Homo sapiens: one gene and its partner. The protein of the gene in region 1 interacts with the protein of each later gene in a pairwise test. Each region holds a gene or a part of one and is shown in the gene's direction. Other genes may lie near its edges.

Region 1 (3,746 bases):
TCAATAGTTTTCACTTCCCAGACCTCCCAAGCTCAAATGATCCTCCCTCCTCAGCCTCCCGAGCAGCTGAGACCACAGGCGCATGCCACCATACCCAGATGATTTTTTAATTTTTTGTAGAGACAGGCCCAGACTGGTCTTGAACTCCTGGGCTCTAGCAGTCCTCCCACCTCGGTCTCCCAGAATGTTGGAATTACAGGCAGGAGCCACCGCGTCCCACTTGTTTTCCATTTTCTGTCATTTTAGGGGCTAGGGGCTAGGGGCTAGAGGAAGCAGAGGTGAACGTCATCATGCATCTTTTTCTAACTGTCTTCTTGCTCACCCCTTTCAGAAAAGCATTGAGCTGGCCGGGCGTAGTAGGTCACGCCTGTAATCCCAGCACTTTGGGAGGCTGAGGTGGGTGGATCACCTGAGGTTGGGAGTTCAAGACCAGCCTGGCCAAAATGGAGAAACCCCATCTCTACTAAAAAAATACAAGATTAGCCAGGTGTGTTAGCAGGTGCCTGTAATCCCAGCTACTCAGGAGACTGAGGCAGGAGAATCACCTGAACCCTGGAGGCGGAGCTTGGAGTGAGCCGAGATTGTGCCATTGTACTCCAGCCTGGGCAACAAGAGCGAGACTCCATCTCAAAAAAAGAAAGAAAAAGAGAAGCATTGAGCTCTTAGGAACGTGACGTGCATCCCCAGCTACACTTCTGTTACCACTTCAGCATCACCTTCCTCCCCGCTTCATCAAGTCTTTTACTCCAGACAGGCTGCAGCTGGTGACATGAAAGACCGGTCAAGGCCAGCTAAGGCATCTGCTTGAGGCCTCCCGTGCCTAGGATGGGGCGCAGCCTGCAGTTGGCTGTCACAGCCTTGTGTCAGAAACACCCTTTAAAATTTAATGTTTCCTTCACGGGTACCCTTTGGCATAAAAAAAGCCCAATCTGAGCCGGACGCAGTGGCTCACGCCTGTAATCCCAGCACATTGGGAAGCCAAGGTGGGTGGATCACGAGGTCAGGAGTTCAAGAACAGCCTGACCAACATGGTGAAACCCCGTCTCTACTAAAAATACAAAAATTAGTTAGGCATGGTGGCACACATGCCTGTAATCCCAGCTACTCAGGAGCCTGAGGTAGGAGAACTGCTTGAACCCAGAAGGCAGAGGTTACAGTGAGCCCAGATCACGCCACTGCACTCTAGCCTGGGCGACAGAGCAAGACTGTCTCAAAAAAAAAAAAAAAAAAAAAAGCTCCATCTGCAGTTATCTGTCGTTAGAGTTTACAAAACAGAGACCTCTTCTGCAGTGTGTCTATCCACATGTAAATATATGTACACAAGATTTAATCTGTTGTTTTGCCCCAAATCTGCCACAAGAGGCTAAGGAAGAGCAAAATAAACGTCGCGATTCGCTTCTCACAGTTCTCAGCCCTTCGCGCTGAACTATTGCTGAGATGGTGGGTTTTGCCAGCAGCCATTGTAGCCCCCGGGCCTGGCTGCATTGCTCACCTCCCTCAGCCTTGTTCTGTCCCTGTCCATGAGATGGAAGTGGCTTTCTCCAGTCAGCTGTGTGTGCAGAGACCGGGGGCTCCGGGCAGAGCCGAGTCCATCAGGACTGGAGGAAGTGCTCACAGCAGGCAGGCTCCCTGGGCCCTGGGTGGGAGGCCTCAGGGATCCCCGTACCTCCTTGCTCACCAGCCAGGCTCGACCTACTGCCCTGTGGGGCAGGTCAGGCTTTTTCCACAGCTCCCTCTCTGGGAGGAGGGTCCTTCCAAGTGAGGGTGTGGTGTAGCTGGAGAATCCCTCTTTCTAGGGGATTTAAATAAGCAGCCCCAGCCGGACGCGGTGGTTCACGCCTGTACTCCCAGCACTTTGGGGGGCCGAGGCGCACAGATCACGAGGTCAGGAGTTTGAGACCAGCCTGGCCAACATAGTGAAACCCCATCTCTACTAAAAAAAACAATACAAAAAGTTAGCTGGGCATGGTGGCAGGTGCCTGTAATCCCAGCTACCTGGGAGGCTGAGGCAGGAGAATGGCTTGAACCCGGAAGGCAGAGGTTGCAGTGAGCTGAGATTGCACCACTGCACTCCAGCCCAGGTGACAGTGCAAGACTCTGTCGCAAAAAAAAAAAAAAAAAAAAAAAAAAAAATTAAATAAGTAAATAAATAAGCAGCCGCATGACCCATGCTGAGGACCCTCTGCCTCACGTTGGTGGCCACGTGTGGTGGCTGCACGCTGGGTGCCTGGGGATGGCTGTGTCCCCGAGTCAGCCCCAGAAGTGCCTACGCCTCTAGGACAGCTCAGAAGTGCTGACAGGTCGTGGCCTCTCAGGATGGGCTCTGGGTTGCAGCTTCATGCCTGGAGTGGCTCATGTTTGGGGGCAAGGTCATGGGCGTTTAAGAGCAGCGACTGGCCAAGAACATGATCTGTATCAGCAGCAGCTTTTGAGAATCTGATGAAATCCCCAGAGCCCCAGAAGGGCACCGGTGTGTTCCAGCTGGTGCACGTTCACAGGGCTTGTCTCCTCAGAGCGTTTATGGGGAAAAAGATGGAAATGTTCAAGCCCAGTCCGTACTGAGAAGCAAATCGAACTTCATACACTTGGTAGACATTTTCAGTGGAAAAATATTAACATTTTATGGAATTCTTACTCTGCTACGTCCCTAGCCAAGCTGTTTGTATGCATGACCTTGGTTAAACCTCAGTTGCCTCTAGACCCCCATTTCATAGGCAAGGAAGCTGGGAGAGGGTCCCCCCATTTCATAGGCAAGGAAACTCGGAGAGGGTCCCCCCATTTCATAGGCAAGGAAGCTCGGAGAGGGTCTCCCATTTCATAGGCAAGGAAGCTGGGAGAGGGTCCCCCCATTTCATAGGCAAGGAAGCTCGGAGAGGATCCCCCCATTTCATAGGCAAGGAAGCTGGGAGAGGGTCCCCCCATTTCATAGGCAAGGAAGCTCGGAGAGGGTCCCCCATTTCACAGGCAAGGAAGCTGGGAGAGGGTCCCCCATTTCATAGGCAAGGAAGCTGGGAGAGGGTCCCCCCATTTCACAGGCAAGGAAGCTGGGAGAGGGTCCCCCCATTTCACAGACAAGTTCAGAGAGGCTCCCCCCATTTCATAGGCAGGGAAGCTGGGAGAGGGTCCCCCCATTTCACAGACAAGTTCGGAGAAGGTCCCCCATTTCATAGGCAAGGAAGCTGGGAGAGGGTCCCCCCATTTCACAGGCAAGGAAGTTCAGAGAGGGTCCCCCCATTTCACAGACAAGGAAGTTCGGAGAGGATCCCCCATTTCATAGGCAAGGAAGCTGGGAGATGGTCCCCCCATTTTATAGGCAAGGAGTCTGGGAGAGTGTCCCCCCATTTCATAGGCAAGGAGGCTGGGAGAGGGTCCCCCCATTTCATAGGCAAGGAGGCTGGGAGAGGGTCCCCCCATTTCATAGGCAAGGAAGCTCGGAGAGGGCCAGTGCTTTTTAACGGTCACGCAGTTCTGAGCATCAGGCTGTCAGCCTGGAGCCTGGCTTGGTACTGAGGTTCCCAGGATGTATAAAGAACTGAACACGCACCTTTGCTGTTGGCTCTTCTGTGCGAGTGCTCTGAGAGTTTTCTGTACTCCCGGCAAGTTTGGGTTGGTACAGATTCACCACAGCGAATCTGACCACGTGGTGACCACAAGCACGCGCTTACTGCGCGCCTAAGTTCACACTCCCTGGAGAAGCTCCTGCCCCAAGGCCGCAGCCTATGGGCCTTTGCGTCTACTCAGGACCA
Region 2 (3,746 bases), on another chromosome or scaffold:
TCGGTACTCCATGGTTGCAGCTGTGTCCCCAAGGGCCACTGAGGTCCTCTCAGAGCCCTTCCCCTACCCTAGAGGCCCTGGCCAATCAGGGCTCACCTGGCCCTGGAGGACATGGGTCGTGGGGGAAACGGGCCGCAGCTGCCCCAGGCCCTGTCCTCTGGGTCTTGTCCACCCCTCCCCTGCCCAAGGACAAGGTGGCCCCTGTCCCCAGGGAAGGGGCCTGCCTGGTGCTTCCCTTTCTGTGCTGAGGCTCCTGAGGCAGCTCCCAGCCCTCAAGCCTGGGCAGACCTCACAGTGGGCCTGCTGTTCCAGTTGCTGTTTGGGGACCCAAACATACCATCTTCCCCATTTAGAATGGGGGTCCCTCCAGTGCCCTGGCTCTGTACACCTCCCCATAGAAGAGCTGAGACAAGAGTGGCCCCCAGTGCCGGTCCCTGGGGCCTAGGATGCTTAGGACCAGCTTCCAGGGGAGGGATGGGGGCACTGCTTGGCTCCGCCAGGCTCTGCCGGAATGGGGGCACCATTCCCCTGAAGAGTCTCTCAGTCTGCCTGAGCATTAGGGTCTGGGCCCCCAGGGCCACCACACTGTCATGGGGCAGGCCAGGGCACCTAGGACTTCTCAGAGGTGCCAGTTCTTTGTTTTTGCCAACCGGGCTTGCCTGCTCTGTCAGCCAAGTGGCGTGTCTGGGGTAGGGGGGTCGCTTCCCAGCCAGTGAAGCCACCAACTTCTGTGGAAATGCTCGGAGCTGTGTCCTCAAGGGCTCTTTATTTCCCCAAGACAACAGATTGCTTGTGTCCTAGACAATGAAGTTTTCATCCCCAGCCTGCATCCTGGACCAGCCCGCCACTGCCCCGCTGGCCACCTCTCTGCATCGGGCACCCAGTGCCAGGGACTGGTTGGGCAGCTCAGCCTCTTTGCCATTCACCTGTTTTGTCACCCAGACTGGAGTGCAGTGGCTTAGTGTCAGCTCACTGCAACCTCCGCCTCCTGGGTTCAAATGATTCTCCTGCCTCAGCCTCCTGAGTAGCTGGGATTACAGGTGCCTACCACCATGCCCACCTATTTTTTGTATTTTTAGTAGAGACGGGGTTTCGCCATGTTGACAGGCTGGTCTCGAACTCCTGAGCTCAAGTGATCCACCCGCCTTGGCCTCCCAAAGTGCTGGGATTACAGGCGTGAGCCACTGCACCTGGCCTGTCATTGATCTGTTCAGTGGCCATTTGGCCTTTGCTCTGACTTGGTCACTCTGGGTTGAGTGTCCCCAGCTGTTCAGGGAGAATGATAATATTTACATCTGTCCCTGGGGCAGCCCTGAGAATGTGGACAGCTGAGGCCTGCAAAGCACTGGGGACCCAGCCTGGCCAAAGTGCTTGAGGGCAAAACTGATGGGGCTGGGTGCCATGGCTCACGCCTGGAATCCTAGTACTTTGGAAGGCCGAGGTGGGTGAATCACTTGAAGTCAGGAGTTTGAGACAGCCTGGCCAACATGGCAAAACCCCACCTCTACTAAAAATACAAAAATTATCTGGGCGTCGTGGTGCACGCCTATAATCCCGGCTACTCGGGAGGCTGAGGCAGGAGGATCTCTTGAACTCAGGAGGCGGAGAGTACAGTGAGCTGAGATTGTGTCAGTGCACTCCAGCCTGGGCGAGGGAGATTCCATCTCAATACAAACAAACAAAAACAAACAAACTGATGGGGCTGAGGAGCCACTAAGGCTGTACAGCTGGGGCAAGGCTGGAATGGTGTGAAGGTGTCGGGAATGCCTGGGCAGGGCCCGAGTTTCCTGTCTTATTTCCTGAGGACGTGAGAACTGAGCAGACCTCCCTGGCCTTGGCCAGGCTCCCGTAGCTGCCGTGGAAAGGAGGTTAAGGTTGGTGGTGTAGATGGGGGCCCTCACAGTGAGTCCATCTTGGCCCCCAGTGGCCTGGGAGCCGATTCTCATCCCTACTGGCTTGGTTGGGAGGTGCTGGGCCACACGCCTACATTCACTCCACCTCTTTCCATCTTTCTTTTTTTTTTTTTTTTTTTTGAGATGGAGTCTCGCTGTGTCGCCCAGCTTGGAGTGCAGTGGCACGATCCCGGCTCACTGCAACCTCCGCCTCCCAGGTTCAAATGATTCTCTTGCCTCAGCCTCCACCACCACACCCGGCTAATTTTTGTATTTTTCATAGAGACGGGGTTTCACCATGTTAGTCAGGTTGGTCTCAAACTCCTGACCTCAAATGATCCGCCTGCCTCGGCCTCCCCAAGTGCTGGGATTACAGGATTACAGGCATGAGCCACTGTACCCGGCCATCTTTCTGTCTTTCTCTGAAGTCCACTTGGTAGCCCTGTGCGGGGCACCCATGGTGACGTGAGAGAATGCCAGCCCCGTTGTCTTAGGTCTTTCACGCCAGGCCAAGCAGTGGTCTTTGGGGAGAGGAGAGGTCTGAGCCGAGGGGTCTTGAAGGATGAGTAGGAGTTTGCTGGCCGCCCCAGGGGGACAGGCTGCCCTATGCGGTGGGAGCTGGGGTGCCCAGAGCCTCAATGCCCACCCCATAAGGCAGAACCACGACTCCCGAGCCACGTGCTGGGGTTTGGGGTAGGACAGTGAGTGTGGCAGTGAGTTGCGAAGGAAGAACTTGGACTGTGGATGCAGAAGACCTGGGTTCAAATCCTGCCTGGCTCACTTCCCAGGCGGTGGCTCCAGACAAGTCACTTGGGGAGCACCGTTGGGAGGTGAGGGCGAGCCCACAAACATGCATAGCTTCAGGGTCCTGCTCTGCCCCGCACCCCGTTCCCCATCCAAGCCTCAGTTTCCTCATCTGTAAAAATGGGCTACAGGAGGCTTCTGCGAAGTAACGCACATCAAGAGCTTTGTTAGCACAAGCTCATCGAATATTCTCCTTGTTCTTGTTATTCTTGGCTTCCAAGCAGCCAACCAGAGCGGGTACCAGGTGGGGTTGTAGGGGCTGCCTGATCCTGCCCTCCTCACCTGTGGCCCAAGGGTGGTGACCTGGCATCCTCTAGGTATGGGGCAGGCGGCATGCGTGGGAGGCTCTGCCAGCCTTTTTGGCATTTTGTTTGTTCACTTGACAGACATTTTCTTGGGTGTTTATTGTGTGCCAAGCACTGTGCCAGGACCTGATTCCTGCCCTTGGGGCAGACTGGCAAAAGATAAATGCCACCTGACAGGTGAGAGAGTGGCAAGAGTGACGGAGGAAGAACTGGGTCCGGGAGCAGGGTAATTCGGAGAGTAGAGTTTTAGTAGCATAGCAGGGAGGGCCTTCTTGGCCAAGTGGCATTTAAGGGGCCACACGAAGGGGATGAGGGAGGGAGCCAGGTGTGTGCCTGGAGAAGAGCGTTTCTGGCAGCAGGAGCAACCCGTGCAAAGGCCCTGAGGCAGGATCGCACCTGGCGTGTTGGGGGAACAGCATGGAGGCCTGTGTGGCTGGAGCAGAGTGAGCCGGGGGGGGGGCGGGAGGGAGGAGGGGAGGGCCCTGTGGGCAGCGGGGAGGACTGTGGCTTTTCCCCTGCGGAAGGTGGGGGCCACGGAGGGTTGTCTGCAGAGGAGGGAGGGAGGTGCCCTGGCTCGGCACTCACGGGCGCTCTCTGGTGGCTGCTGCAGGAGGACAGCGTTTTGGTTGGTGATGAGCGTGAACACAGGGACCGCACAGACAATACCTTCCAGGGTCTGAGAGTCTGGAATGGAATCGCCCAGGGAGACATGGTGGGGTGCACCCCTCGTCCTCCCTTCTCTTGG

Evidence for each region. The genes of interacting proteins can lie anywhere in the genome.
Region 2: the proteins of RAB11FIP3 (region 1) and RAB11B interact in a two-hybrid assay, tested with the Homo sapiens proteins (one study listed by BioGRID).

Annotation. Positions count from the first base shown.
Region 1 is NC_000016.10:498,584-502,329, forward strand, and holds part of RAB11FIP3 (rab11 family-interacting protein 3), read left to right. Parts: exon of another isoform or gene 1-1,404; intron 1,405-3,746. UniProt on the Homo sapiens protein: Downstream effector molecule for Rab11 GTPase which is involved in endocytic trafficking, cytokinesis and intracellular ciliogenesis by participating in membrane delivery. Recruited by Rab11 to endosomes where it links Rab11 to dynein motor complex.
Region 2 is NC_000019.10:8,393,259-8,397,004, forward strand, and holds part of RAB11B (ras-related protein Rab-11B), read left to right. Parts: intron 1-3,746. UniProt on the Homo sapiens protein: The small GTPases Rab are key regulators of intracellular membrane trafficking, from the formation of transport vesicles to their fusion with membranes.